2 linked regions of the Homo sapiens genome follow. The protein of the gene in region 1 interacts with the protein of each later gene in a pairwise test. Each region holds a gene or a part of one and is shown on either strand. Other genes may lie near its edges.

Region 1 (16,140 bases):
GAATCAGTATCCAGAGTTCCTGCAATATATTACCTAAAATGTCCAGGTTCAACAAAAAAGTATAAGACATTCAGAGAAACATGAAAGTGTGACCCATAAAAGCAGACAACAGAAACAGCTTATAAGAGGGACCAGGTGTATTTAACAGATAAAGACTTCATTATAAATAAGTTCAAAGAACCAAAGTACACATGATTAAATAAGTGAAGGAAGGTATGAAGACAATGTTTCATCAAACAGGGAAATCAAAAAGTGAAAGTATTAAAAAAGAACCAAATAGATATTCTGGAGTTGAAAAGTACAAAACCAAAATCAAGCATTTATTTGGGGGCTTAAGAGTAAATTTGAACCTACAGAAGAAAGAATCTGTAAATTTGAAGAGAGATCAATAGAGATTATTCAATTTAAAGATCAGAGAAAATAGAATGAAGAAAAATGAAAAGAAAGCAAATCAACATTTGCATAATTGGTGGGGCAGAAGGAGAAGAAAATGAGAAAAGAGTTAAAAAAATTGAATAATGGGTAAAAACTTCCTAAATCTGTTGAGAAACATGAATTCACACATCCAAGAAACTCAACAAACTCCACAGACAAATGCAAAGAGATCCACATCAAGACATTGATGTAAAAATACTAAAAGCCAAATACACAGAGAAAATCTTAGGAACAGCAAGAGAGAAACTACTCATCACTTACAAAGGAACCCTAATAAGATTAACAGCGGACTTCTTTTTTTTTTTTGAGATGAGTCTCACTCTGTCACCCAGGCTGGAGTGCAGTGGTGCAATCTTGGCTCACTGCAACCTCCGCCTCCCAGGTTCACGCCATTCTCCTGCCTCAGCCTCCTGAGTAGCTGGGACTACAGGCACCCACCACCATGCCTGGCTAATTTTTTGTATTTTTAGTAGAGACAGGGTTTCACTGTGTTAGCCAGGATGGTCTCGATCTCCTGACCTCATGATCCACCTGCTTCGTCCTCCCAAAGTGCTAGGATTACAGGCGTAAGCCACAGTGCCCGGCCTAACAGCTGACTTCTCATCAGAAGCAGTGGAGTCCAGAAGGCAGTGGAATAACATTCAAAGTACTGAAAAGAAAGTCCATGAAAAAGAATAGAGTGTTTTATAGGCATGACATTAAGTCTGACTTCATTATGCATATTTAGTGATATGGTTTGGCTGTGTCCCCACCCAAATCTCATCTTGAATTATAGCTCCCATAATTCCCACATGCCACGGGAGGGACCTGGTGGGAAGTAATTGAATCATGGGGGTGGGTCTTTCTCTTGCTGTTCTCATGATAATGAGTAAGTCTCACAAGATGTGATGGTTTTATAAAGCAGAGATCCCCCTGCACACACTCTCTTGCCTGCTGCCATGTAAGATGTGACTTTGCTCCTCCTTCGCCTTCTGCCACGATTGTGAGGCCTCCCCAGCCATGTGGAACTCTGAGTCAATTAAACTTCTTTCCTTTATAAATCACCCAGTCTAGGGTATGTCTTTATTAGCAGCATGAGAACAGAATACTACACTTAGGAATACTGCTGTGTCTGGCATGCCCTCATAAGGAAGAGTAGACAGAGTTACATAAGGAACACAGTCATATTCATCTCCTCCCTCCACCCCAGGATCTGAGAAAACCCTGTTATTAACTCAGTGATATCAATAAAGTTCTAGAAACCATGTTCTAAACATAAATATTCCTCTTATATATTTTAGTTTTAGTGATGAGGTTTATAAGCTCTGGTAACTGTATGCATTTGGAAGCAAAATGGCTCACAAAGGTCTGATCGGCACTGTTCAGTAAAACTTTCTGCACTGAGGGATGTGTTTAAATCTGTGCTGTTCAATACATGTGGTTATTGACCACCTGGAATGGCTAGTGCAACTGAAGAGCTGAATTTTAAATTAAATGAAATCAAATTAAAATTTAAATAACCACATATGGCCAGTGGTTAGTGATTTGGATAACACAGCTCTGGCAGCTCCAAAACCTCTTTCTTTTCCCCTGGTTATCTTTCTTGAGTAAACTATGTAGCTTACTTTGTGTGGTGAGCCTTAGTTTAATAAACATTTTCAGTATAGATAAGAATAAATTACCCTGAAAAAGAATAGAAAGAAACATTAGTAAGCACCTGCTACAGAAAAGCTTGTTGCTATTTGGCTTTTCACTGATTCTGGGACAGAAAGACGTGATTCCTGAAGTGGAGTTTATGCCCATAAAGCTGGCTCTAAAAACTCTAAATTGAGTAGAACAAGGCCTGGTACACGGTGCATACAGAAAGATCCTTGTTGAATGAATGAATAGACCATATAATCAAAGGGCAAGCTTCAGGATGTTGTTTTTCTTCAATGAATTTCTCTTAACGTAAAACGTAAATGAAGGCGAAATTCTCTCTTCTTAAGTAAACTAAACTTGGAATATTCATGAGAGTTTATTTGACAGGGTGTGGTTCCCTGCTCTCTTCTTCTTTGTGCCTCCACATGTTCACCCCTGGCATGAGAGAGCCTGCATATTAGCAAGATAGAGTTGGGTTTCTGTGTAGGATGTTTACGAACGGGAACTTCATAGGATAGGGACAGCTAGCAATGATGAGCTGAACGGAGGCCAAGCAGGCCTTGAAAGGTAGTTGGATGGGAGCAAGAAGCGAGTATTTATCCCATCTTCTAGACTCCCAGGGTGTCCTTGATCAGCTGGTAGAAGGACCCTTTTTATTGATGGGCTGAGACTGCACACCCTTTCTGCCATTGCTAGCCACTCACAATTATAGAAATGCTTGCTCCTCCAGGTTTTGTTAAATGTGATCACATCTGCAATAGCAATACTGTTAATGACAACTACCATTTACTGAGTACCCGTTCTGTGAGATCCAAAAGTAGGAACCAATCCCTTAGCGCTCTCCTCCAGGGGGTTTCCCACTCTTTCAACCCCAGCACCCCCTGGTTAGTGCTCCCTCAGGCCAACACTTTGAAAAAACCTTCAAAACATAAAATTGTACTTGTGCACAATCTGTATTTTGTATTTGTCAAAACTGTGTGATTCCCAATTAGAATTTCTGGTTGACATGAGATAGCTGATGTTACTAACCAGCTGACTGGAGTTAATTCTAGCCAAAAGTACGGAGAGTTGATGACTGTCTTAATCCTTACAGCTTTGTGATAGAAAAGTCTTCTGAAAATTTGACTTTTGGGGGATACTGAAAATGACTTGAGGATGGCCATTCTTGTTTTCAGGAACTCTCTAGTGATTTGGGAACCTTAGTTCAGAACAATTCTTCTAGACTGACTTGTTCTTGCATTTTCATCTCAAACTTGGGGTACTGGCTTGAAGAGCAGGGTGGATGGGGTCACCTTGAGAGTTGAATAAGATCATCCAGTCCTTGTGCATTTTATCAAGGAAACCAACCAAGGAAGCTGCTGACATCGGGATGGCTGGACTTTCTAAAGGTGCCTTATTCTCCTGTTGTGATGGTGGAGGTGGGCAGAAGTTGTGTGATGACAGCCTCTGGAATCAGACGGCCTGGGGCCACGTCCTAGCTCTGCCAGTTTTAAAAAAACAGCTTGATCGAGGTATTATTTAAATATCTTAAAGACCAGCAATTTTAAGTGTACAGTTTAATGATTTGGGGGTTAATTTATAGAGCTGTGCAACCATCACCCCAATACAGTTTTAAAACATTTCCATGACCCCCAAAAGATTCCCCTTCCCCTGGGAAGCTGTGTACAGAGTGTATTTCAGAAAGCCTCTGCTGTTTAATCTACACCACGGAGGCACGGAGGAGAGTCTCAGTTCCATTGCAACCTCATGAGCACTGCATGCGAGCCTGATGCTCTATTTACTAGCTTATGTGTATGTAGTATTTTACTCATTCAGTTGACATTTCTAATAATGTATGAGGTTAAACATTCCACACATTTGCATACTAGTTGTATTTCTTCATTTAATTTTCTGCCCATGTCTTTTTTTTTTTTTTGAGATGGGGTCTCACTCTGTCACCTGGCTGGAGTGCAGTGGTGCGATCTCAGCTCACTGCAACCTCTGCCTCCTGTGTTCAAGCGATTCTCCTGCCTCAGCCTCCCAAGTAGTACAGGCGCCCGCCACTATGCCCGGCTAATCTTTTGTATTTTTATTAGAGACGGGGTTTCACCATTTTGGCCAGGCTGGTCTTGAACTGCTGACCTCGTGATTCGCCTGCCTCAGCCTCCCAAAGTACTGGGATTACAGGCATGAGCCACTGTGCCCGGCCAATTTTCTGCTCATGTCTGTTACTTCAAGATGTTCTTTGACCTTTGAGTTGCTCCCTTATGTCCTGCATCTAAGGCCTTGTTTGGACCCATATCAAGCTTGGTTTACTGACTTTATGTGTTTTCTCAGTGCTACCAGCTTTTCCATATTTGTTCTTGCCTCTGCTCCTCCTAGCTTTACTGTAGTGTTGTGGAGAGGGTACTCAGTGAACTTGGTTATTGCATTCTGTTCACTGTCTCCTCACCCACTTCAATCCCAGCCCCACTGCCCCACCAAGTACATGCACACTGCACTTAACTAAGTTAATTCACCTCCTTAATCTGAAGCCTCAGACCTTTCATCCACGGGCCCTTGGAGGGCTGCAGATGTGTTTTATTTTGTCTATGCGGTGTTAACATGGTTTCGGAGTTTGTTGCTTTATATTCCAGTTGTTATTTTCATAACATTTTTTATAAAAATGGAGACATGTCTTATTAGAAACTGGATTTTTTTTATCACTTAAAAAAAATCACAATTTGCCTACTAGGCCACAGTTCCACAGGACAGCTGGAGCTGGGTGGAGTGGACAGTTTCTGTTTCATGTTCTCCATGTTCCCTGTTCTCTATGTCCCACGAGTGGAGGCTTAGGGTCAGTCTCTATCCTTCAGGGTGTTTGTAGTGTCATTTCCTAAAGTAGAGCTGAGAGGAAAACAAGAAAATAAAAGCTAAATCAAGAGAGACAAGATTTCAAAGACAATGAAAGAGAGTGCATTTGTCTGTGGAAGTGAACATTATACCTGCTCTGTGTCTGTAGGGAAAAGTGTAGCACAAGGCCAGGCACGGTGGCTCACGCCTGTAATCTCAGCACTTTGGGAGGCCGAGGTGGCGGATCATGAGGTCAGGAGTTTGAGATCAGCCTGGCCAACATGGTGAAACCCTGTCTCTACTAAAAATACAAAAATTAGCCAGGCGCGATGACGGGCACCTGTAATCGCAGCTACTCAGGAGGCTGAGGCAGGAGAATTGCTTGAACCCGGGAGGCAGAAGTTGCAGTGAGCCGAGATCACACCACTGCACTCCAGCCTGGGCAACAGAGCAAGACTCTGTCTTGAAAAGAAAAAAAAAAAAAAAGTACAGCACAAAGTCCCTGCCCTGTTTCATGGACTTACATCACCTGCCTTCCACCACTGTGAGCATCTGAGTTTATGATCCCTGTTTTGGAGATCCAGTTCTCAAACTGTTTTTCTCTGCTTAGCAACTATGCAGAGTTGCTAGATGTATGGTAAGAATTTTTTTTTCTGGTTACTATTTATTGAGTTTTGAAAATCATGTATTTAGAAGTTTTACATCGGCATTAATGTTATTGCTATAATAATATCAGTCATTCAGTCACATTTCTCAAGTGGAGCAGAAAACAACAGCAAACATATGCTGGGGAAATAACATGTCTCCACGTTGAAGAATTTAATTTTTAAACGCTCCCATGTACTCTGTGTCAGGTCGGGCTGCTATAGAAAAATACCACAGACTGAGTGGTTTAAATGGCAGAATTTTGTTCTTACAGTTGTGGAGGCTGAGAAGTCCAAGATCAAGGTGGTGGCCCACTTGGTTCCTGGTGAGGGCTCTCTTGCCGGCTTATAGACAGTGGTCTGCTTGTTTGCTTGCTGTGCCCTCATGTGGTGGAGAGAGAGAGGGAGATCTCTTGTGTCTCTTCTTCTTCTTCTTTTTTTTTTTTTTTTTTTTTTGAGATGGAGTCTCGTTCTGTCGCCCATGCTGGGAGTGCAGTGGTGCGATCTTGGCTCACTGCAACCTCGGCCTCCTGGGTTCAAGCAATTCTCATGCCTCAGCCTCCCGAGTAGCTGGGATTACAAGCGGGTGCCACCATGCCTGGCTTATTTTTGTATTTTTAGTAGAGATGGGGTTTCACCATGTTGGCCAGGCTCCTCTAGAACTCCTGACCTCAGGTGATCCACCCACCCTGGCCTCCCAAAGTGCTGGGATTACAGGTGTGAGCCATCGCACCCAGCCTTGTGTCTCTTCATTTAAGGGCATTAATCTTACCATGAAGGCCCCACCCTCATGATCTCATCACCCCCAAAAGGCTCTATCTCCAAATATCATCACACTGGGGGTTAGGCCTTCAATACATGAATTTTGGCTGGGGCCAGGGGGTAGGTGATACAAGTCATAGCATCTTGCAAATAGAAAAATACACATTTATTTAAAAGCTTTGCTGAATTCACAGTCAGATATTGGTATGTAATTTCTCAATCTATTACATGGGGTTGGATATAGTTTTTGATGCTGAAAAGTAAAAGTGGGGAAATCTTGGTCTGTGACCAAGCACACAAATGAATTGCGGCTTACAGTTCTGGTAACGGAAGTCTAAATTATCCACCATCCAAAGAATAACTGCAGGATAAAATTTGTTTGAAGTTTCCAGATAATTTACATGCAATAAATTGCACAGAGCTTAAAAGTGTACAGTCCAGTGAGTTTTGATTAAGGCATGCCCTTCCGAACACATTGCTTATCAAAATATAGAACATCTTAATCAACCAGAAAAGTTCCCTATGACCCTTCTAGCCAATCCCTTCACCTCTACCAGGCAACAAGTGTTCTGATTTTATTTTACTGAAGATTATGTTTGCCTGTTCTTTAACTTCCTATAAATAACATCCTATGGTATGTACATGTAGAAGGCAGTTTCTATAATGGATCTCAATGATCCCCACCCGCTATGTTCACTCCCTTGTGTGATCTTTTCCCTTTGAATATGGAGTGGATCTAGGAACTTGCTTCTAATGCACAGAATGCAGCTAAAGTGATGGAATGGCCCTTCCGAGATCAGATTACAAGAGTGTGGCTTCTGCCTTCTCTCTCTGTCTGATTCTTCTCACTGGCTAGATCTGATGAAGCAAGCTGCTCTTGGGAGCTGCCCTGTGAGGAGGCCCACACAGCAAGGAACAAAGGAGGAGCAACCGGATCCTGCAACAAACAAGTGACTGGGCTGCTGTTTCCCCAGGTGAGCCTGGAGATGACGGCCACCTGGCTGGACTTTATTGCCACCTGTGAAAGACCTTGAGCTAGAGGATCCAGTTGATCCATGCCTGGATTCCTGACCCACAGAAATCATGAGATAATACATGGCATTGTTTAGGCAACTAAGTTTTGGGTTAATTTGTTATACAGAATAGATAACTAATGCAGTACTTTTCTGTGACTTCTTTTGCTTGACAAAATATGATTTATCCATGTTTTTGTGGGCAGAAGAGATATTCTCAAAGAGCTTATTAAAAGCATTAAACCTATTAAGATAGTCAAAAATTTCAGTATAAGAGAAAGCAGCAATACAGAGAGGTAAATTGAGCACTGAAGCCACATAAGCCCTGCATTTGCTGGACGGGGTGATGGGGAGCTTCAGTGGTGATGGTATGGGACAGAAATGAAGGTCAGGAAGAGTCTAATAGATGAACATTCCATAAGGCCGGGGTCCCAAAAGGTTTCTACATCCTCAGGGTAACCGTGGTCCAGAAGAAACATGCTCCCGGACTACAAGGAAATGCACCTTGGCACTGAGCAGAGGAGGTGGTGGTGGGTGGAGATGGCCAGAGAACCGTCCTATGGGTTTATCAACACAGGCCAGGGTGGGGTGTCATGGCAGACCAAATTCACTTCACCTGCATGGTTTAGAAAACTATGAATTTAGCCATGAATTTAATTTTCCAAATTGGAAGTTCCTCTAGGTATCTGGTAGAAGCAAAACCACCTCCTCTATGGAGGAATACAGCTTCATCAGAAAACCTCACAGAGAAATTTCCAAGCAAAATGGGATGTGCACAGGTGAAAATTATCAAGCACACAAGGAAACAGGGCACCATGAGTGAGACCTACCAGAGAGAGGAGACAGCAACAGAAAGGCTGATGTAGGTACTGGAATTGTTAAAGCCAGATCATAAGACAATTATGCTGAGGTAAAGAAAGTCAAAATTAAAAATATCTGCATGGAGCAGAGAACCATAAGAAGAAAAGCCTCAGTTTTGCAAAAAAGAAAAGGAACTTTTAGAAATGAAGTTAAGGTCATTAAAATAAAAACCACAATGGGCTGACTTAACAATGATCAGACACACCTGAAGAGATAATCAATGACCATGAAGGACAGAGTGAGCAGGTCGAATTTCTGACTAATCAGAGTCCTGAAACCATCTCTAAATACAGAGAAGGGAAAGACCAAAAACCACATAGAAAAACGGGCAGGAGAGAGAAAATTCACAAAGAAAACAGTGAAAATAGCTCTTAGGCTTAAGAAAATCTCTCCAACCTGGCTGATAAGATAATTTAAACTTAAAACAACATTGGATGCTACTTCTTACCTACTGGGTGGCAAAAGTCCCAAAGCTTGACAACATGCTTTACTGCTAAGGCAGTGGGAAAACGAACATGCTCACGTGTTGTTGGCGTGAATGCAAAATGAAGGCAAATCTGACAATATCTAGCATAAAGACGTATGAATCTATGTTCTGGCCAGCAATTCTGCTTCTAGGGTGAGCGCAAGGCTGTTGATTGCAGCACAGAGTGAGCTGAGAGTGAGCACAGGCAGAAATGAGAGAAGGCCAAGGACTGATCCTGTGGCCTCTGCAGGGATGACTTCAGTATCCTGGCTGCCCTTGCTTCAGTTGTCACACCCACCCTCCATCCCACCCCCAGAAGGACATCTTCCCTCAGCATCCAGTGGCCTTTTAAAAGCATAATTCAGAGTATAGAACTCTGTTTCCTAAATCTGTGCAATGGCTTCTGGTTGCTCTGAAAGTCCACACTCACCCGTAGGGCATGGCTCCTCCCTCCTGCTCTGGCCTTTTCCTCCCTTACTCTCTGTGGCCAGTCCCTCTGCTGTGTTGTCCTAGTGTTTTTTTTTTTTTTGAGATGGAGTCTTGCTCTGTCGCCCAGACTGGAGTGCAGTGGCACAATCTCAGCTCACTGCAACTTCCACCTCCCAGGTTCAAGCGATTCTCCTGCCTCAGCCTCCGAAGTAGTTAAGATTACAGGCATGCTCCACCACACCCAGCTAATTATTGTATTTTTAGTAGGTCTCAATCTCCTGACCTTGTGATCCGCCTGCCTCGGCCTCCCAAAGTGCTGGGATTACAGGCGTGAGCCACCATGCCTGTCCTGTCCTAGTTCTTATTCCTCAAATACGTGGATTTTTCTCACTTCAGGCATTGTACTAGCCGTTCCATTAGCCTGGAGGGGGAAACTCATCTTTGCGGAGCTGGCTCCTTTTCATTCAAATTTCAACTAAAAATGCCACCTCTTCATGGAATTCCTTCCTGAACACCCTCTCTGAAGCATTCCCTGAGTAGCTACTCAAACACATCATTCAATAGTGCTTTTTCATAGCACTGATGTTATCTTTTTTTTTTTTTTGAGACAGAATCTCACTCTGTCACCCAGGCTGGAGTGCAATGGCGTGATCTTGGCTCACTGCAACCTCCGCCTCCCAAGTTCAAGTGATTCTCCTGCCTCAGCCTCCCAAGTAGCTGGGATTACAGGTGCCCACCACCAGGCCTGGCTAATTTTTGTATTTTAAGTAGAGATGAGGTTTCACCATGTTGGCCAGGCTGGTCTTGAACTCTTGACTTCATGTGACCCGCCTGCCTTGGCTTCCCAAAATGTTGGGATTATGGGCGTGAGCCACTGCCCCATCTGATGTTATCTTATTTATCTGCTCATCATCTGTCCCTGCTACCAGAATCTAAGCTCCAAACCAGAGAGACCCTCTGTGGTCACTATTAACTTCCTAATGCCTTCAAGAGGGGACTCCACCTGGTAGGCAGTCAATACATAGTGCTAAATGTATGAATAATTGCCTTGGATTCTGCATCCTTTTTAACTTTCCCAAATTCAGGGAGAGAACTGTGGGCTGCCATTTTATATTTGTCCAGGCTTTGTTTTTTTCCCTTCATGTCCACCTTTTACTTTTTCACCAGCTCCTCCACAGTAACAAAAGCCTTATTCAAAGGCCTGTGAGTCAGAGGATTATGTAAAGAAGTTACTTTAATCTAGATGCCCCTGACTTGATGGAACACGTCCAGTGACTCCTGGAAGAAGATCTGGAGGTCTCCAGAGCAGCGTGGTCCCAGGAGGCATACACAGAGAGCCACGGCCAGGGCTGAAACAGTCTGTTGAGTGCAGCCATGGGGGACGTCCTGGAACAGTTCTTCATCCTCACAGGGCTGCTGGTGTGCCTGGCCTGCCTGGCGAAGTGCGTGAGATTCTCCAGATGTGTTTTACTGAACTACTGGAAAGTTTTGCCAAAGTCTTTCTTGCGGTCAATGGGACAGTGGGCAGGTAAGGGAGTGTTCCATCTCATGTTTTTTTGCTGCTGTTGTTCCTGCTTGTTACTATTATTATTATTTTTGAGACAGACACTTGCTCTGTCACCCAGGCTGGAGTGCAATGGCGCGATCTTGGCTCACTGCAACCTCCGCTTCCCGGGTTTAAGCAATTCTCCTGCCTCAGCCTCCCAAGTAGCTGGGATTATAGGCGCCTGTCACCACACCTGGCTAATGGTGTTTTTTTTTTTTTTTTGAGACAGAGTCTCACTCTGTTGCCCGGGCTGGAGTGCAGTAGTGCGATCTCTGCTCACTGCAACCTCTGCCTCCTGGGTTCAAGCAATTCTCCTGCCTCGGCCTCCCAAGTAGCTGGGATTACAGGCACACACTACTACGGCTGGCTAATTTTTTGTATTTTAGTAGAGACAGGGTTCCCCCATGTTGGCCAGGCTGGTCTCGAACTCCTGACCTCATGATTTGCCCACTTTAGCCTCTCAAAGTGCTGAGATTACAGGCGTGAGCCACCGCACCCAGCCAACGTTTTGTATTTTTAGTAGAGACAGGGTTTCACCCTGTTGGCTAGGCTGGTCTCAAACTCTTGACCTTGTGATTCACCCGACTCGGCCTCCCCAACGGCTGGGATGACAGGCGTGAGCCACCGCACCCAGCCCCTGCTTATTATTATTTATGTCTCAAAAGGGATATTGCATTTTTTTCTCTTTGAGAGCAAAGAAGTAATTCCTTTGGGTAATTTTAATTGGGGGGATTAGAAAAGTGTGAGTGAAATTAGAATGGTCTGCAACACAAGCTGTAGGGCATTAGGGGAACACTAGGGCAGAAGGCTACCCAGCCCTTGCTAAGCACTTATCCTCTCAACCCCATTAGATGAGTTTTCTTCTTTTGGGAGTTTCCTGCTAATACAAATAATAAATAATGCAGAAATTTCTGCATCCTCATCTCTAAATTTACAAAAAGCCCAGGGTGCTTTCACTTTACTAAAAGGTGTTTCCAAATTTTGAAATCTAAATAATTTTAACTCATTGTATTAAAAAAAGGATCCAAGTGTTTTTAAGAAATGAAGGTGTTACAAAATCAAGGCAACGCATAACTCTATGGAGCCATGTTTTCAGGATGGTATGGAATGGAATCTGGGTCTGGCTGGTGTCAATTAATGCTGCCTCCCCATGGGATTTATCTACTGGAACGCCCATGCAGAACTTCAGCCCTATGACTGAAGTTAAGGTGAAGAGCATGAGGCCATGGTTTCAGCATCTCCTTGAATATCTGAAATGCTAAAGTCTTTGCAGGGCCTTATATTTCAAATTTGGACACACACACACACACACACACACACACACAAAGAATCCAATGACAAAAATGATTAAGTGACTTTAGAGATATTATCTAGGCAAAATAGGAAAGATTCTAATATGCTTATAGGGCTGCCAGATAAAATACAGGATACCCAGTTAAATTTAAATTTCAGAAAAAAAGGAATACTTTTTTAGTATAACTCACATATGGCATGAGACATGCATTAAACAATTCATAATTTACCTTAATTTCAAATTTAAGTGGGCATTCTGTATCCTTATTTGCTAAACCTGGCAACCTTAAAAACTTAGCAATGGAAATTAAAAAAATTACCGTGTGAGAAATTGTTTGGGATGACAAATGGATTTTTGACTTCTGCGTCTTATATTTGCTGTGTGCGTGTGTGTGTGTGTGTGTGTGTGTGTGTGTGTGTGTGTGTGTGTCCTCTTGGGGTATTATGCTGTCAGGAGTGAACTTGCTTGAACTTGCTCAGCAGCTTGACCTGAGTGTTCTGGATTTAAATACCCCACTCCACACAGATTCAGATGCCCACGTGTGGGTGGACGTAGCACTCTGCACAGCTGCTGTCGTTTGTGTAGGGAAAGCCCTTCTAAAAACCTACATTCTAAAAGAAGTTCAAATGGGGACAGAGACTAAGAGCATTTGGTGACTCAAAGGAAAAACATGATCTTAACCTGTTTTTATGAGTCAAGATGGATAGAGTTACCTCTAGCAGGAGTAAAATATGTTTGGGCAGAGGCAGATATCAGGGAGATAATATATTTCAAGTAGGGGACAAAAAAGAAACGCAAGAACTAGAGGCTAAATTTTTAATTCCTCAGATAGAGTACCCTGAGCTCTGTGCTGGATTTCCTAATTCTTTTCTTAGTGTATATTCATAGACTCAGGGCCCCAAAGTCAGACAGCCTGGGTTCAAATCCTTGTGTCATCATTTTTAGCAGTGTGACCTTAATCAAGTTACGAACTTTTTCCCCTTGGCTTCCTCATTTATAAACTAAGGATAATGATGGTCCCTGCATTTTAGGTTTGTTTTGAACATTAAATGAGATGATGCATCTAAAACACTAGAAGCAGTACATGGCAAGAAGTGAGTGTGTGACCGTTATCCGTCGTTATTATTGATGGTATCATCTTGCCTGTAGTGTAGGCCCTGTATTGGGTGAATTGAAGATTCCCCACAGGGAGGGGAAGGTAAGGCCCAAGATGCCCTGAGCATAGTTCCTCCACCCAGAGCTGCAGACGGTGTGCATGGAGCCTCTTAGAAGTTCCTAAACGAACAGACACATCATTAGTAATTATTAAAGCCAGTGTGGTCCGTGAGGCTTGTACAGCTTGGCCTGCACTCACTCTCAGGTGAGCTAAATGTACCTTTTGTTCACACTTTTTGAAAGCATGCCCTTTAATTGTTGTTGCAAGGGTAAATTGTAAGTTTTACGATATACCGAATTGTAGTGAATTTTGAAATTGTGACGTTCTCACGAATGAAGCGTATACTAGAGCTCAATCATTAAATATGTCTGTAATGTTGATATGAAAGGACTAGCAGACCTATTTGACTGTTGTATATTAACAGATAGTTCTATTGAGTACAAATTCTTCAGGTTTCTTCATTTCACTGCATTTTCTTTTTGCATTTTGGTATTTTCCTCTTTGCTAAATTCCCTACCTTCCATAGGCCTTTAATTGCTGCTGTGGGGTGGGGGTGAGAAGTGGGCAGAGCTCCACTTTTAGAAGGAACCTTGAAATGTCCTTACAATGACAGATGGGTGCCTGGGCAGAGAGATAATGGGGAACACTGCCTGCCCTTGTGGGGTGAAGGCTCACAATATCTGCATCCTCATGGGGCCTGCAGGAAATGTTCCCTGGCTGCGGATCTGTTTCATTTTGGAACATGTTTTCCACAGTCTCGCCAATCCCTCCAAAACACCAACTAACCAACCAACCAACCAACCAACAAACCAACCAACCAACCAACCCACCCACCAACCAAACAATCCTTTCACCTGAATGTTTAGTGAGGGGCTTCAAGGGCGTGGGCTGGAGAGCAAAGGGATGAACCTTTGGAGTACTGACTGCCCTGGAGACTAGGCTTGTGAGAAAACGTGGCCAGTGAGAAAGAGAAGTTTAAAGATGAATTCTGTCTTTTAAAAGCATTCTTGCTTTTCACAGTGATCACTGGAGCAGGCGATGGAATTGGGAAAGCGTACTCGTTCGAGGTAAGCTATCTTCCTGGGGACTTTCTCCTCCCTTGTATTGAACAATCACAGTCCTGAGACATCCACCCCAACACTAGATTTTTGAATATAAAAGCAGTATGCATTCATTTAAAGGAGAAAATATACTCTATGGAAAAGCAAACAAAAATAATAATCTCACTCCCTGGATCTCTTTTTTTAAACACAATGATATTCAAAGGTGACAGTACCTTGCCTTAGGGATTGTTTTGGGAATTTGTGGGGCATTGGTATTTTCTAGTGTAATTGTGCCATATCAGCTTATATACTTTAATTTTTTCAAAACATTATAAACTACTTTCCTTTTATTTATTATTTACATTAAGCTAGGGCATATATTGATTTTTTAAAAGTCACTTGCTTAGGCAAAACATATTATCAGTGACTTTCATTTCAAGGACATTAATGGCATTATAGCATATTCTATAAAAAGAAGGTCTAATAGAACTGAGAGTCACTAGAATACAATTAGTATTTTTGAGTATTTGCTTCCACGCTTATTTCTCTGTAGATAGATAGATTGATAATTATACTTTAAAAAATGCATTTATAACATATGTGGTTTTATATGCTATTATAATTATAAATTTCACATTTTTATTAATGAAACATTGTTTCCTGGAATTCCTATGTATTTTATTTCTTCCTTATGCCTATTACACTGATGTCTAGAACCATGTCAAATACAATAGAAGAATAGAAAGAATTCTAGAAACTGTAAGAGGAAAGCTGTTTAAAAATCAATAACACCAGCTGGGCACGGTGGCTCACTCCTGTAATCCCAGCACTTTGGGAGGCCGAGGCAGGTGGATCACCTGAGGTCAGGAGTTCGAGACCAGCCTGGCCAACATGGTGAAACCTCATCTCTACTTAAAATACAAAAATTAGCAGGGTGTGTTGGCAGGTGCCTGTAATCCCAGCTACTTGGGAGGCTGAGGCAGGAGAATCTCTTGAACCTGGGAGGCAGAGGTTGCAGTGAGCTGAGATCGCACCATTGCACGCCAGCCTGGGCAATAGAGCAAGACTTTGTCTCCAAAAAAAAAAAAAAAAAAAAAAGAAATCAATAACACCTTAAAAATATAATGAAAAGCTTTTCCATTTGCAATAGAAAAATAAGTAATCCTAGAAATACAGTTAACATAAAATTTGTAGGTCTTTTTCAAGAAAACTGTAAAATTCCATTGAGAAATATGAGATATTCCAAATAAGAGAAAAAAATACCACATTCTTGAAGAGAAAGATATTTGAAACCTAACAGTTTCTCCTAAATTTATCTCAAATCCCAGATTATACATACCATTATTTTTTAAATGTTACATTAGTTGTGAGCATTTTCTTATGTCAAAACTGTGGGTTTTTTTTTTTTTGAGACACTTGCTCTGTTGCCCAGGCTGGAATGCAGTGGTACAAACACTGCTTACTGCAGCCTTGACCTCCTGGGCTCAAGCAATCCTCCCACCTCAGCCTCCCGAAGCAATGTGTCCTCCTGGAACTACAGGCTCATGTATTTTTTGTAGAGACAGGGTTTCACTGTTCCTCTGTTGTCCAGGCTGGTCTTGAACTCCTGAGCTCAAGTTATCTGCCTGCTTTGGCCTCCCATAGTGCTGGGATTACAGGCATGAACCACTGCAGCCTGCCGAAAACCCTGATTTTTAAATGGCAACATAATATTCCATCAAATGGATGGTCCATAATTTAACCATTTTCTTGGTAAAAATTTTAATTTTTTTCTGAATTTTTCTTCATTTTATATAAAATTGGGAGTAAATACAGAAACTTTTCTGCTTATATCCAATTATTTTGGGAGCTATTTTCTTGAGGTGGTCTTGCTGGGTTAGAGGTTGTGAATATATGTAAGGTTCCAGTGCTTTCCACTATGTTATAGTAATTACACCCATTTCTGAGACAGATGTGGTCTTCATCAGCTTCAGCTGCAGAATGAATTCCATAAGCTGAGTGGCCTAAGCAAGCATGTATTTCTTAGGGTTCTGGAGGCTGGGAAGTCCAAGAGCGAGGTG
Region 2 (15,166 bases), about 34 Mb from region 1:
GGGACTGGCGTGGAGGCACATATGGTATAGCGTGGTACAGGCTCTGCTGGGACAGACAAGTGGGCAGGGGCACAGAGGAGGCCCGGAGGCCTCAGACCTGGGGCTGGGCCGACTTCCTGAAAGCAGCAGCATCTAAGCTGGGGCCTGGCGGGAGAGTGGGTGGGCCCATGTTAAAGAAAGCGATATTCTCACGCTTCTTAAAATGGTCAGGAAGGCTTCACTGGGGACTCTTGCAATAGGTGTCAGGACTATCACAACCTGGGAGAGAGAGGGGAATCAACTCCGAATGCAAGGAAGTGAGGCTTCACAGCCAATGAACAGGGTGAGGGGTCAGCAGATGGAAACTAAGAGGAGGCCTCCAGGGCAGGGGATTCCTGCTGAACTGACTGGGCAGGCTGATGCTGGAGGCGGGACGAGGACTCACACGTGAAGCGAACTGGGGAGGAGGCACTTGATCAGATATCGTGGGGGTGGGGATTCTGGCTACAGCTGGGCCAGGCAGGCTGAAGAGCAGGGGAGGGGCCAGGGGACAGGTCGAGGCCAAGTGAGAAGAGGGCTCAGAGGAGCCTGTCTGAAGTCTGGGTGTGGAGTATGGGGGGTTTGGCAGGAGGAAGCTGGAACATCAGGCTGGGCACCCTCTCATGGACATCACCTCATGGGGGGCTTCTTGGGGCCCCTGCTATTGGCACAGAAGGGAGCTGGGGCCCCACAGTAATAACCTCTGCAGGGGTAACTGGATAGGCCCCCAAAGGCTCCCCACTGAAGCCAGTTTCCCTCTGCAAAGACCTTCACTGCCAGCCTTTCACAGCTGCTCACTGTGCTGGCGCTGTGCACAGCCTCCATCTCCTTAGAGCAGCCCCTGTGAGCCATCTGCAGGGAGGCCTTTGGGTGCCTTTTGTTTTGTCTTTATTGTTTTTAATAACCTTTTAGAATCACTCAAGTAACACAAAGTCATTGTGGATAAGTTAGAAGGTTTGCACGAAGAAGAAGTAACCATCTGACATCCAGAGATGTCTGGTGACAGTTGGGTGTGCCCCCACATGGGTCATTAAGTCCTGGTGCCAGGCATGTTCCCTCCTCTGCCCAGGGGCCCATCCTGGCCTGGGAGTCTGGAGTCATGGGCCAGGCTGAAACAGAAGAAACTCAAAAGAAGCAGGGAGAAGGCAGGTTTAAGGGCCAGGACGGGGGTGGCTGTGTCCCTTCCTCCTGCTGTGGGAAGGGACTTGAGATCCGTGTGCTTTGCTTCCTTCTTGCTTGGCCAATCCAAGCAGGGGCTCAGAACAGACCTCAGGGCTGAGCAGAGGCCAGTAGACCCTGAGAGTCCTGCCAGGCTGCAGGGATTCTGGGTGGGCCTGCGGACATCACATGCACGGGAGGGACGGATGCTGGGGTCGCACACTGGCCGGCAGGGCAGAGGACAGGAGAGGCAGGGCGGGCTCCGAGTCTCACGCATTGCTGTGGATGAATCTCCTGATCTCTCTGTGCCTCAGTGCCTCATCTGTGAAATGGGATGGTTGGGCCGACCTGCCGAGGGAACCACCCTCTCAGCACAGTGCCTGGGTTTGGGCTGCTATTATGGGCTGTTACAAAGGCCTGTGGTTCCTGAGCCAGGACCTACCTCCCTGGGCCTCTGGCACCCTTCAAGGTGTTCTGGGGTGGGGACAGGGAAAGGTGCAGAGGGCTGGCCTATTCACAGCCTCCTGCTTGCTGTGGGCACTGCTGGGACGGTCATGTGCCCGCTATGGTCTGACTCAAGAAGAACTGCCCTCCCTCCCACATCCTGCTCCCTCTTCTCTGCCCTCCCCCATCCTCCTCCTCCCCTCAACCGCCCTCACTCCGGCAGCAGCAGCCACAGTACTGGCAGGAGGCTGGGTGCCTGAGCTTCACCTTCCAGGCCGCAGAATTTTCAGGGTGCCACCCCTGGGTGCCCCACATGTCCCTTCACATGTGCCCAGGATCCATTCCAGCCCCTTAGATTCCTCTTCATTGGGGAGGGGGACGGTGGCTTTTCCATGTGCGTCCTCTCTGTATGGACCCTAATCAGAGTGCCGCGCGCACCATGCGCGGTACTCCCATAACCCTCTCCGATGTTCGAGGGGAGGGTGGAGGCTTTGTGTGGATCACATTAGAATGGGGGACAGTGGGACGTGTGAAAGTCTTCGGTGATCTGGCTTCTCTGAGCGTCGGCCTCTTCAGCATTCACCTTCGATCCCACCTCAGCTGTAGTCCGGGCTTCGAGGACTTGCAAATGTCTTCCTCTCTCTGAGCCTGTTTCTTCATCTGTAAAATGGGCTTCCTCGGCCGGGCACTGTGGCTCACGCCTGTAATCCCAGCACTTTGGGAGGCCGAGGCGGGCAGATCTCCTGAGGTCAGGGGTTCGACACCAGCCTGGCCAACATGGCAAAACCCTGTCTCTACTAAAAATACAAAAATTAGCTGGGTGTGGTGGTACATGCCTGTAATCCCAGCTACTCGGGAGGCTGAGGCAGGAGAATCGCTTGAACCCGGGAGGTGGAGGTTGCAGTGAGCCGTGATCCTGCCACTGCACTCCAGCCTGGGCGACACAGTGAGACTCTGTCTCAAAAAAAAAAAAAAAAGGCTTCCTCGTAGTACCTTCTCAGGGCCATTAGGGGCATCCTGGGAGAGTAAGGTGTGCAGAGTTCCCAGTCGCGTCAGGCCCTGCAAAGCTAATAGCCGGTGTTGGTGATAGATGACCTCTCTCTCTGGCTTCCCGATGTGGAAGGAATCGTCCTCTGAGGAGTGCGTGTCCTCCTGGGGGTGGGGCGGGAGGGGTGGTTAAACTGCCTACAGGAGCCAGTTTGTGAATTGGGTTTAGAACAACACATATTTAAGTTCACAATTCTAAAGATCACACTCTCGACTCATTTTTGTGCTAAGCCCTGTGGTTACATGCACCATGTCCCCTGATACCAACAAGAGGGGTATGAGAACCATCCCTTGTTATGGATGAGGAAACTGAGGCTCAGACAGGTGAGGGCGTTTGCTTGAGGCTGTACAGGCAGTGAATGGCAGAGATCTGTCCTGGGATTGGGAGTGCAAAGCCATTCCGGCGTCAGCCACGTAGGGATCTGGAGGGTTTTGTGCTGGGCACTGGGACTGCAGGGTGGACAAGTCCAGTTGGAACAGCCAGGATCCCCCCATGCTGTTTACCCAGTTCCCTGGGAACAGAGACTGAGGGGCAGGGTGTGGGCATGTGGGAGGAGCCACCTGCTGGCTCCATATGGTGGTCTACCCACCAGCACCAGCAGCAGCCCACCCAGCCTGATGCCAGGAGGGGCTCAGCAGAGAAGGTGGGGAGGTGGGAGGGTCTTGTGCAGGCATGCGGCTTTGGGGAGGCCATTCATGTGACTCTTGTTTTAGCCCCCTTGGGTGGAGCACAGGGCTGGGTGGCCAAGTGCTCACTCTGTGTGCAGTATCTGGGTTAATTCCTATGTCAGTTCGTAACCCCCTTATGCAGACGAGGCTAGGAGAGGTGAAGTCTGTATCCAAGGTCACACTGCTAGTGAGAGGCAGAGGTGGGACTGCGCCTGTGCCTATCAAGTCCATGGCCCCATGGGGCACCATCTCTTTGAACAAGGAGCCACAGCTTTCCTGGGCCCCGGGCAGGCGATGTTGGTGGTGGGTGGGTGATGTTGGCGTCTCCTTTACCCTCTCTGGCCCGGTCTGCTGCCTCCAGGTACAAAGGCTTCATCAAGGACTGCCCCAGTGGGCAGCTGGATGCGGCAGGCTTCCAGAAGATCTACAAGCAATTCTTCCCGTTCGGAGACCCCACCAAGTTTGCCACATTTGTTTTCAACGTCTTTGATGAAAACAAGGTGAGCTGGGGATTGATGGGGCCTGCGGCAGCTGGCTCAGCTCCTGTGGGTACCCGCAGCGTCTCCACACCCACTCTCTCCTGCCGATGTTCCCTTCTAGAGAAGGAACACACACACGAGTGCATACTGACATGCACAGATACATAGTCGCACATAAATGCATGCACATGTACACATGCAGACACACAATAAACACAGATGCATCCAAATGCATGCACATGTGTGCACACATATGTACACCCACACATGTACTGACATGCACATCCAAGCTCTCACACAGACGTGTATGTGCACATGCAGGCGAATACCATGCACACATGTGGGCACACATACATGGAGATGCAGCCACACACGTGAACATACATGTATATTCATACAGTGCACAGAAATGCACACATATGCACACAATGCATGGACTTGCAGGTGCACACACGTGTACACACAGAGAGACATATACACATATGCATATGTATACAGTGCACAACACACATGCATGTATACACATGTACACCCTGACACTTCTCTTACAAGCATAAAATGCAAATACCTCCCATGATAATAACAGGATTAATAATAATAACCAATATTTCCTGAACATTTACTATGTTTAAGCTCTTTACATGGATTTTTTTTTTTTTTGAGACAGAGTCTTGCTCTGTTGCCGAGGCTGGAGTGCAGTGGTGCAGTCTCAATTCACTGCAACCTCTGCCTCCCAGATTCAAGCAATTCCCCTGCCTCAGCCTCCTGAGAAGCTGGGATTACAGGCGCCGTCACCACACCTGGCTAATTTTTGTATTTTTAGTAGAGATGGGGTTTCACCGTATTGCCCAGGCTGGTCTTGAACTCCTGACCTCAGATGATCCACCCACCTTGGTCTCCCAAAGTGCTGGGATTTCAGGTGTAAGCCCCCTTGCCCGGCCATACATGGATTATTTTTAATGAGGCCTTACAAGCACCTGGGAGCTGGGTATTTTAATACCCATTTTGTAGGTCAGGAAACTGAGGCTCTGAGAATCGTAGGCTATAGGATCTTTTGTTCCTGGCGTTTTCCACTGAGCATCATGTTTTCAAGACTTACCATGTGGTAGCTTGTGTCACCTCCGGGCAGTGGCTGCACGGATAGCTGTTGGGTTATCTGCGATGACCCTGATTCTGTCCTGCAGTAGCATTTGAGGGTGGATTTACTGCCACTTGTCTCTGTACCCCCTGCTGCTGGCACCGTGGAGGTTTCTATTCTATCCCATCCCCAGCTTCTCCCAGGTGCCCCCAGGCTGGGAGTCACATGCCTGACCCTGGGAAGGGCTCTTCCCTTCTTGGGCCTCGGTTTCTTCATTTGCAAATAAGAGGTGGAATTAAACAACCTGCAGCGGCCTTTCCTCTGCAAAAGCCCATGAGCCCACAGCTCTAGGCCGAGGGGCTTCCGGGCTGTTGCTGAGAGGAGCTCAGGCATTGGTGCTTCTGGCACCTTCTCCCATCAAGAGTGGAGTAAGCCTCTCCGTTCAGCCTCAGTCCTTCTTCCTGTGCCTCCCTCCTGGCCTCTCCCACTTCTAACCCCCCACACAGTCCCCCAGCCTCTGCTCCCCACCCTCTCCTTGCCTCTCGCCCCCCATTCCTTCGAGCCTGCCCTCTCCACCTGAGTGTCCATTGGCCACAGTGTCTGGAGCCTGCGACTGCCCCTCGCCCGTCCCGAGGTTCAGCCTGACCCGGTGGCCTGGCCGGCACTGACTGAGGCAATCCCCTCTCTCTCCTGTCAGGACGGGCGAATTGAGTTCTCCGAGTTCATCCAGGCGCTGTCGGTGACCTCACGGGGAACCCTGGATGAGAAGCTACGGTGTAAGTCCTGCCCCCTTGGCCCTGTGTGGCAGCAGCTGGAGGGCCCAGGTCAGAGGGAGGCAGCCCTCGGCCCTCACCAGGCAGGGGTGCCAGACACCCACTGCAGTGACCACAGATGGCGTCCCAGCTGTGTCTGCAGAGGGCAGGCCTGGGCCCTGGGCAGGTGGCCCTCACACGGCCACGTAACTAGGCCAGGCTGACTGTCCAGGGTTCAGAGAGCAGCGCAGACATCTGTGCTTCCAGGTGGGAGGGTTTCCTGGAGGCACCGGCAGCAGGAAGGAGCTCGCTGAGGCAGGTGGACAGGGAGGGCTGGGGGCAGAGGCTGGCAGGAGCCTTGGCTGCACTCGGGCAGGTGCAGACTTGGGCCGCAGGAGGGTCGGTGGGGACCCAAGACCCAGGTTCAGTGCCGGACCCACCTCTTTCATAGCCATTGCTTTGATTCTTGCTTTCAGTCATTCACTTACTCACTCATTCATTGACCAAATAACGACTGAATGCAGCCACGTGTTGGTACCAGGGATCCACTGGGGGATAAGATAGATGGGTCCCTGCTCTCAGGGCGATCAGTCTAGAGTGGCAGCAGGATTTAAAAAAAAACCTCAGGAAACTGCAGGCAAGGAGGAGAGAGGGAGTTGTGAGCAGGAGAGGACCTGCCTGGTAGGCGCAGAGCTGGGGATGAGAGGAGCTGGGGATGAGAGGAGCTGGGGAGGGGGCGTTAAGGGCTCCAGCCAGGGGGCCCGCGTGTGCGAGGCCCAGTGGAGGGAGGCTGAGAGGGAGTTGGGAGGGGAAGCTGTGCAGGCCCCTGGCGGCATTAGGAGGAATGCAGGGTGCGTGGAGGGGAGGGAAGATGGAAACCAGCTGGCCAGAACTCCCTGCTCAGTAAGACTTTCACACTTCAGTCCATCGGCAGCAAGAAGACCCTGCAGTTTCTTTTTCTTTTTCTTTCTTTCTTTTTTTTTTTTTTAAGAAATAAAAGAGAACTTTATTTATGCAAAAGCTCCTCCTCTCAATGCACTATTTTATTTTCTAATGTTGACTGTAGCAGGCCACACCATAATTGTGGGAGCAGAGTGGACTGTGGGGAGGAGGTGGGGGCTGGAGTTGGGGGAAGGAGAGGGGTGCTCCTCTGGGTAACATCCCAGGCCCCGGGCTCTCCCACGCACTCAGCTCCAGCCACTGATACCTCGGCCCTGGCAGCCCAATGCCCCATCCCTTTATTTTATTTGTTTATTTATTTATAGACAGAGTCTCGCTCTGTTGCTCAGGCTGGAGTGCAGTGGCACAATCTCGGCCCACTACAATCTCTGCCTCCTGGGTTCAAGCAATTCTCCTGCTTCAGCCTCCCAAGTAGCTGGGATTACAGGCATGTGCCACCACACCTGGCTAATTTTTGTGTTTTTAGTAGAAATGGGGTTTCGCCATGTTGGCCAGGCTGGTCTCGAACTCCTGACCTCAGATGATCCACCCACCTTGGCCTTCCAAAGTGCTGGAATTACAGGTGTGAGCCACCGTGCCTGGCCCTGTTATTTTTAATATATATATATATAAAATATTTAATATATATATAAAATATCATATATATATATATATATATATATATATATATATATAGAGAGAGAGAGAGAGAGAGAGAGAGAGAGAGAGAGAGAAAGAGAGAGTCTTGCTCTGTCACCCAGGCTAGAGTGCAGTAGTTCGATCTCGGCTTATTGCAACCTTCGCCTCCTGGGCTCAAGCCATCCTCTCACCTCCTCCCAAGTAGCTGGAACTACAGGCGCCCGCCACCACACCTGGCTAATTTTTGTATTTTTAGTAGAGAAGGGGTTTCATCCTGTTGGCCAGGCTGTTCTCCAACTCCTGACCTCAGGTGATCTGCCCGCCTCGGCCTCCCAAAGTGCTGGGATTATAGGGGTGAGTCACTGTGCCTGGCCCTGTTATTTTTAATTTATAAATAAATAAATATATATATACACATAAATATAAATTATGTATATATAAATATATATACATAAATATAAATTATGTATATATAAATATATATACATAAATATAAATTATGTATATATAAATATATATACATAATACATAAATATAAATTATGTATATATAAATATATATACATAAATATAAATTATGTATATATAAATATATATACATAAATATAAATTATGTATATAAATATATATACATAAATATAAATTATGTATATAAATATATATACATAAATATAAATTATGTATCTATAAATATATATACATAAATATAAATTATGTATCTATAAATATATATATGTGTGTGTGTATATATATATACGTATATATATATGTGTATATATATATACGTATATATATATGTATATACAGAGAGAGAGAGGGAGAGAGACTTGCTCTGTCACCCAGGCTGGAGTGCAGTGGCTTGATCTCGGCTTATTGCAAACTTCGCCTCCTGGGCTCAAGCCATCCTCCCACCTCAACCTCCCAAGTAGCTGGAACTACAGGCACCGCCACCAGGCCTGGCTAATTTTTGTATTTTTGTAGAGACGGGGTTTTGCCATGTTGTCCAGGCTGGTCTCGAACTCCTGGGCTCAAGCAGTCTGCTCACCTCAGCCTCCCAAAGTCCTGGGATTACAGGTGTGAGCCACCATGCCCAGCCTTATTTTTTTTAACCCTAGTTGCAATGGTGTGTGTGTGTCTGTCCCTGTCTATCCTGATGTAAATATTAGTTGACCTGATGAGGAATGGGCCATCCGGTCGCTGACTTCATGTTGGGGTACAGAGAGGAGGGGCGAGTTGAAGACCCCTCCCCACTGCCCCAGCCCAGGATCACTCAGCAGTGCTGCTTGCTTACAGGGGCCTTCAAGCTCTACGACTTGGACAATGATGGCTACATCACCAGGAATGAGATGCTGGACATTGTGGATGCCATTTACCAGATGGTGGTGAGAAGCCGGGTCTCGTGTGGTTAGGGGTGGCAGGAGGGGCAAAGCCAGTGACTGAGAGACAGAGAGAGAGCACTTGTGCAGCCATGCTCCTGCCCAGGGTGGAAGCAGGGGTCACTGGCTGAGCCGTTCTGTACATCTCTGCCTGGGCAGGCAGGCACAAGCTGGTAGATAGTGGGGCTGGGGTGTGGGATGTTCCAGGGCACAATGGCAGGGATGGGGAGGGGAAAGAAGAGGGGGGCGGCCCTCATCTGGAAACTGCCAGGTCTGGGGGGCAAATGCGTGGCCAAGAGCCCAAAGCCCAGAGTGCCAGGGCCCACCCCCGCCTTGTCCGTCCCTGCAGGGGAATACCGTGGAGCTCCCAGAGGAGGAGAACACTCCTGAGAAGAGGGTGGACCGGATCTTTGCCATGATGGATAAGGTGAGGTGGGGGGGCGGGGCTGGTCCTGGACCAGGGAGGCAAGGTGTCGGGGGCAGGAATTGGAGTCCCTGGATCCTGGGCCTGGCTTTGCTGCCAACCTCCTCCATGGCTCACGGCAGGCGGCACGGTGTCCTATCCCTGCTCAGCAGCTAGCCCCATCCAGTGTCCAGAGTCTTAAGTCAGTTTGCTCAGCATGTTTTCTTTAATCAACCAGAGTCCTTAGCCTTTTTTTTTTGTTTGCCATGGACCCCTTTGGCATTCTGGAGAAGCCTACAGACTTCTCAGCATAATGGCTTTAAGCGCATAAAATAAAATCCATAAGATCAAAAAGGAAGCTGATTATTTTAGAAAACAGCTGTCAGAGTATTTTAAAAAAAGAATCTGTGATGTAGCGTTCTGTGAGCTGCTTTCTTAACGCATTCACTAAGATGTAGTGGTGGGTCCAGCAACCCCCGAAATTGCGAGCTGTAATATCTGCAGCAACTAGGGTGTGTTATGAAAATACCTGTGATCCCTACTGTCGACAGATCACAGGTACTGCAGGTCCTGTTGGGGACCGTCGCCTAGGTTTCCATCAAAGGAAAAGCTACATTTCAGTTAGAGGTTAGTAAAAAAAGGCTGATTTTTTTTCCCCCAAGTTCATAGACCTGCTGACTTCTATCCACAGGCCCAAGGTTAAGAAACCCTTCTCTTTTTTTTTGAGACAGAATCTTCGCCCTGTCACCCAGGCTGGAGTGCAGTGGCGGGCGCGATCTCGGCTCACTGCAAGCTCTGCCGCCTGGGTTCACGCAACTCTCCTGCCTCAGCCTCCCGAGTAGCTGGGACTACAGGCGCATGCCACCATACCTGGCTAATTTTTTGTATTTTTAGTAGAGACGGGATTTCACCGTGTTAGCCAGGATGGTCTCGATCTCCTGACTTCGTGATCCACCAGCCTCGGCCTCCCAAAGTGCTGGGATTATAGGCGTGAGCCACCGTGCCTGGCCAAGAAACCCTTCTTTAAAGGGAACCAAAGCCAGGTGTGGTGGCTCACACCTGTAATCCCAGCATTTTGGGAGGCCGAGGCGGGTGAATCACCTGAGGTCAGGAGTTCGAGACCAGCCTGGCCAACATGGTGAATCCCTTTCTCTACTAAAAAAAAAAAAAAAAAAAAATCCGGGAGGCAGCAGTTGCAGTGAGTGGAGATCGCGCCATTGCACTCCAGCCTGGGCAACAGAGTGAGACGCAGTCTCAAAAAAAAAAAAAAAAATTATCCAGGCATGATGGCACATGCCTGTAATCCCAGCTACTCGGGAGGCTGAGGGAGGAGAATTGCTTGAACCTGGGAGGCAGAGGTTGCAGTGAGCCGAGATCACACCACTGCACTCCAGCCTGGGCAATAAGAGTGAGACTGTCTCAAAAGAAAAAAAATAAAATAAAAGGAACCATAGACACTGGAGCCTACTTGAGGGTGGAGGGTGAGAGGAGGGTGAGGATCGAAACCCACCTATTATCAGGTACTATGCTTATCACCTGAGTGACAAAATAGTCTGTACAGCAAACCCCCACAACACAGGATTTACCTATATAACAAACCTGCACATGTATCCTTGAGCCTAAAATAAAAGCCTAAAAAAAGGGACTCCAAAGAAATAAGGAATCCTTCTTTAAATCAAACTTACTTAAAACTAAAATAACTTAAATGTAAATTTGAAATAATGACGTTAGGGAAATCCAGGTGTTACGTGCCTTCAGCAAAATAACATAAAATGGTCAGGTGCGGTGGCTCACACCTGTCATCCCAGCACTTTGGGAGGCCAAGGCGAGTGGATCACTTGAGCTCAGGAGTTTGAGACCAGCCTGGGCAACGTGATGAAACCCCGACTCTACAAAAAATACAAAAATTAGCCGGGTGTGGTGGTGTGCACCTGTGGTCCCAGCTACTCGGGAGGCTGAAGTGGGAGGATGGCTGGAGCCTGAGAAACCAAGTCTGCTGTGAGCCGTGATGGTGCCATTGCACTCCAGCCTGGGTGACAGAGTGAGACCCTGTCTCAATCAATCAATCGATCAGTCAATCATAGAAATTCCTGTAACGCAGGGCTGCTTATTAGATTCTGGCTGGAGACAGCTGTTTGCCCTAAAAGCTTTGACCTGAGGCCTGTACTTTCTTAATTAAAAAAGGGAGATTAGCCCATGTTAGAGGAGTGGTAGAGACGTGCTGGCCTCAGACCCAGCTGGCGTCTTGGTAATGATCAAAAGATTTATCGACAGAGTGTGGAGCACGGAATAATAAGTTTCTCGTGGTGTGCGTCCACGTGGCTTAAGGCCAAGGCCGCACATTCCTTACTGTCCCCCTGTCTGCACTTCCGTCATTTTGGGAAACAGCACAGACCCTGTAGTCACACTGACTGGGGTGTGAATCTGACTTCTCCGTTTCCCAGCCCTGGGGCCTGGGTAGGTGACGGAGCCTCAGCTTCCTCACTGGTAAAATGGGGATGAGAGCAGCACCCCCTTCTTGGCTTGGCCGTGAGGGTTCCATACACTGAGGGTTGCGCCGAGCTTGGCATATGTCGTGTACGCAGCGAGCGATCCCTGAGCACAGCTCGGTTGTGCTCATCGGCGCTGTTTTCGGCACTTACCCTCTCTGGATACCCGAGATCGAGTAGGTGCTCTCCGTGGCCTTTTCCTTGTGGTCCGCCGGCTTCCTTGAGAGATGCTCCGGGGAAGGGATTCTGGCCCAAACATCCCCTCCCCGAGAGACCCACTAAAATTCCTCTTTCTGAGCCATGTCCAGCCCCCTGCCGGGTCTCCCAGGGTCCAGTGTGGGCTGCTCCAGGAGCAGTTTAAATGCCCTTCCAAGAGTGACCCCAGAGAACTGCACGAGGCTCTCAGCCTTGTCAGTTACTCACATTGATGGGGTTTAATAGCATTAACCATGACACGTGTGGAGTTACAGGGCACTTCCAGTTGGTCAAGCACAGAGCTGTCACCCGAGTGCCTGGAGGAAGCCAGGTAATTACCCTCCATCCCCAGGTGAAGAAACATGCCCAGAGAGGTGGGCCACGGCCCAAGGCCACCCTGCCATGAGTGCCGAGGTCTGTCTGGTGCTGGCTGCTTGTAGGCCCTGAGCCACGTTGCCTCCCTCCTGATCTAACCTTGGAAGGGCTCTTGGGACCGGCCCTGGGCTGGGCTTGTCTAGAGCCCTCTCCTGGGAGGCCCTGCACCCTCAGCCGCCTCTCTCTGCTCACAGAATGCCGACGGGAAGCTGACCCTGCAGGAGTTCCAGGAGGGTTCCAAGGCAGACCCGTCCATTGTGCAGGCGCTGTCCCTCTACGACGGGCTGGTATAGTCCCAGGCTGGAGCTGGGTGAGTGCAGACTCGGGGCCTGGGGTGGGTCTGGGATGGGTCAGGGGTGAAAACCCAGCAGCAGGACACCTACGGTTGGCAGGTAATTACCTGGGTCTCTGGGGGTGTTGTGGTCAGCCTAGCAGGGACATAGCTGGGAGGAGGAGGCTGGAAGGGGGGCCTTCAAATTGGTCAGAGCTCCTCTGTTTTGATCATTTTTATAGACCCAGATCAGCCTGCGAGTTTGCTTGAACAGAATTTTTCTGGGCGCGGTGGCTCACGCCTGTAATCCCAGCACTTTGGGAAGCTGAAGCAGGCGGATCACCAGGTCAGGAGTTCAAGACCAGCCTGACCAACATGGTGAAACCCCGTCTCTACTAAAAATACAAAAATCAGGCGGGCGTGGTGGTGCGCACCTAGTCTCAGCTACTTGGGAGGCTGAGGCAGGAGAACCGCTTGAACCCAGGAGGTGGAGATTGCAGTGAGCCGAGATCGTGCCACTGCACTCCAGCCTGGGTAACAGAGTGAGACTCCATCTCAAAAAAAAAAAAAAAAAGAAAAGAAAAAAAAAAAAAGAAAAGAATTGTCCTGGGTGGAAGACACTTTGAAAATTAGTTCCCAACCAGGGCCAGGGACCTGGGAGAGCAATTTCTTATCCCCTCTCTGAGCAGCCGGTTGAAGACCTAACTAAGCTCCTAGCTGTCACAGAATGATAGCACGCCTGGCAGAGGCCCCTGTTGCTGGTAGAGAGCTGTCTCCCTTCTTTCCTTCTCCTCTCCTCCCTTCTCCCCTTTTTTCCTGCCTCTTCTTTGTGGAGTGTTCAATGTAGTCTGCGGGGAGTGGGTGTGAATAACGTCCAAGGTATTGTCCAGAGATCAGCGTTCTTGTCCACGTCCTGGTGAACCAGTGGATGCCTGCTGTTGGTGTATATGTAAGGGTAGAATTGCTGGGACATAGGATATGTGTAATATTTAGCTTTGGTAGTTACTAGAAAACAGTTTCCAAAGTGGTTGTGCTGTTTTGCGGTCCCACTAGTAGTGTATGAGAGTTCCAGTTGCTCCACATCCTTGCCAACACTGGGTATTTTCTGTCTTTTCAAATTTTAGCCATTTTTGTGAGTATGGAGTAATAACTTGTTCTAAGTTTACTTTGCATTTCTCTGATAAGCAGTGACGTTGAATGCCTTGTTATAAGTGTATCACCCATTTTAATGTGCTCATTTGTGATGTGCTAGGTTAGTTATCCATTGCTACATATTACATTACCACAAACAGCAGCTTAAGAACAAACATTAGGAATTTGGCACAGTTAAGCTGGGTGCCTCTGGCTCAAGGACTCTCAGGAGTATGCAGTTCAGCTGTCAATAGGGTTTGCCCAGGTCTATCCTGGATTTAGCAGTGCAAGTTCCCTGTTCTAGGAAACTTCTCAGTCCCGGGAAAATTGGGATACTTGTCAGCCATTGGCCAGGGCTGTGGTCTCATCTGAAGGTTTGGCTGGTGATGACCTGCTTCCAAGCTCACTCATGTGGTTTGGCAGCCTTGTTCCCTTGCCATGTAGACACCTGCACAGGGCTGCCTCACAATATGGCTGCCGGCTTCCCTCAGAGCTTTCCAAGAGAGAAGGAGAGAAAGAGAGCCAGGATGAAAGCCAGTGTCTTTTTATAGCATAATCTTGGAAGTGATATCCATCACTTTTTCTTTTTCTTTCTTTTTTTTTTCTGCGACTGGGTCTCACTCTGTTACCCAGCCACCAGGTCATGGCTCACTGCAGCCTCAACCTCCCAGACTCAGACGAGCCTCCCACCTCAGCCCTCAGCTTTCCAAGTAGCTGGGACTACAGACATTTGCCACCATATCTGGCTAATTTAAAAAAAAAAGTGTTTTTTTTGTTTGTTTGTTTTGTTTTGTTTTTTTTCTGTAGTGTAGAGATAGAGTCTCACTATGTTGCCCAGGCTGGTCTGGAACTCTTGACCTCAAGTGATCCTCCTACCTCGGCCTCCCAAAGTGCTGAGATTACAGGTGTGAGCCACTGCACCCAGCCATAGATTGGTTTTTGAATGCTAAGTCACCTTGCATTCTTAGAATAAACTCCACTTTGCTGTGATGTGTTATTTTTTTATGTATCATAAAATTTGATTTGTTGGCATTTTGTTTAGGAGGTCTACACTGTTTTTTTCTTTCTTTCTTTCTTTTTTTTTTTTTGAGACAGGGTCTCACTCCATCACCTAGGCTGGAGTGCAGTGACATGATTTCAGCTCACTGCAGCCTCTGCCTCCTGGGTTCAAACAATTCTCCTGCCTCAGCTTCCCGAGTAGCTGGGACTATAGGCACCTGCCACCATGGCGCCTGGCTAATTTTTCCATTTTTAGTAAAGATGGGGTTTCACCATCTTGGCTAGGCTGGTCTCGAACTCCTGACCTCAGGTGATCCACCCACCTCAGCCTCCCAAAGTGCTGGAACTGCAGGCGTGAGCCACCATGCCTGGCCAGGCCTACACTGTTTTGAAGCGTCTGTTATTATTATTATTATTTTTCACAAGAAATCCTTTTTCATTGAAGAGACATTGAAAATATGTTTAATGAGAAAACCTCAATTAAAAAGTTTATTTTAAAAAAAACCCCTTATGTATGACTCAGATATAATCACAGTGAACATTTTAGTGTCCAGAGTGATTTTAAAAGAATTGAACACTTACAAAACTTAACACTCAGTAAACTGAGTCACACAGAAATTATATAATTAAAACCAATTTATAAAGGAACTATCACTGTTATTAATATTTCTTTTTTTTTTTTTTTCCAAGATGGAGTCTCCCAGG

Evidence for each region.
Region 2: the proteins of HSD17B3 (region 1) and NCS1 interact in binary tests that used the Homo sapiens proteins (3 or more experiments, as listed by UniProt).

The regions. Positions count from the first base shown.
Region 1 is NC_000009.12:96,296,380-96,312,519, reverse strand, and holds the start of HSD17B3 (17-beta-hydroxysteroid dehydrogenase type 3), read left to right. Parts: upstream 1-10,343; 5' UTR 10,344-10,415; coding exon 10,416-10,569; intron 10,570-14,057; coding exon 14,058-14,104; intron 14,105-16,140. UniProt on the Homo sapiens protein: Catalyzes the conversion of 17-oxosteroids to 17beta-hydroxysteroids. Favors the reduction of androstenedione to testosterone. Testosterone is the key androgen driving male development and function. Uses NADPH while the two other EDH17B enzymes use NADH.
Region 2 is NC_000009.12:130,214,135-130,229,300, forward strand, and holds part of NCS1 (neuronal calcium sensor 1), read left to right. Parts: intron 1-3,697; coding exon 3,698-3,836; intron 3,837-5,590; coding exon 5,591-5,669; intron 5,670-8,515; coding exon 8,516-8,604; intron 8,605-8,947; coding exon 8,948-9,025; intron 9,026-12,254; coding exon 12,255-12,353; 3' UTR 12,354-12,370; intron 12,371-15,166. UniProt on the Homo sapiens protein: Neuronal calcium sensor, regulator of G protein-coupled receptor phosphorylation in a calcium dependent manner. Directly regulates GRK1 (RHOK), but not GRK2 to GRK5. Can substitute for calmodulin. Stimulates PI4KB kinase activity.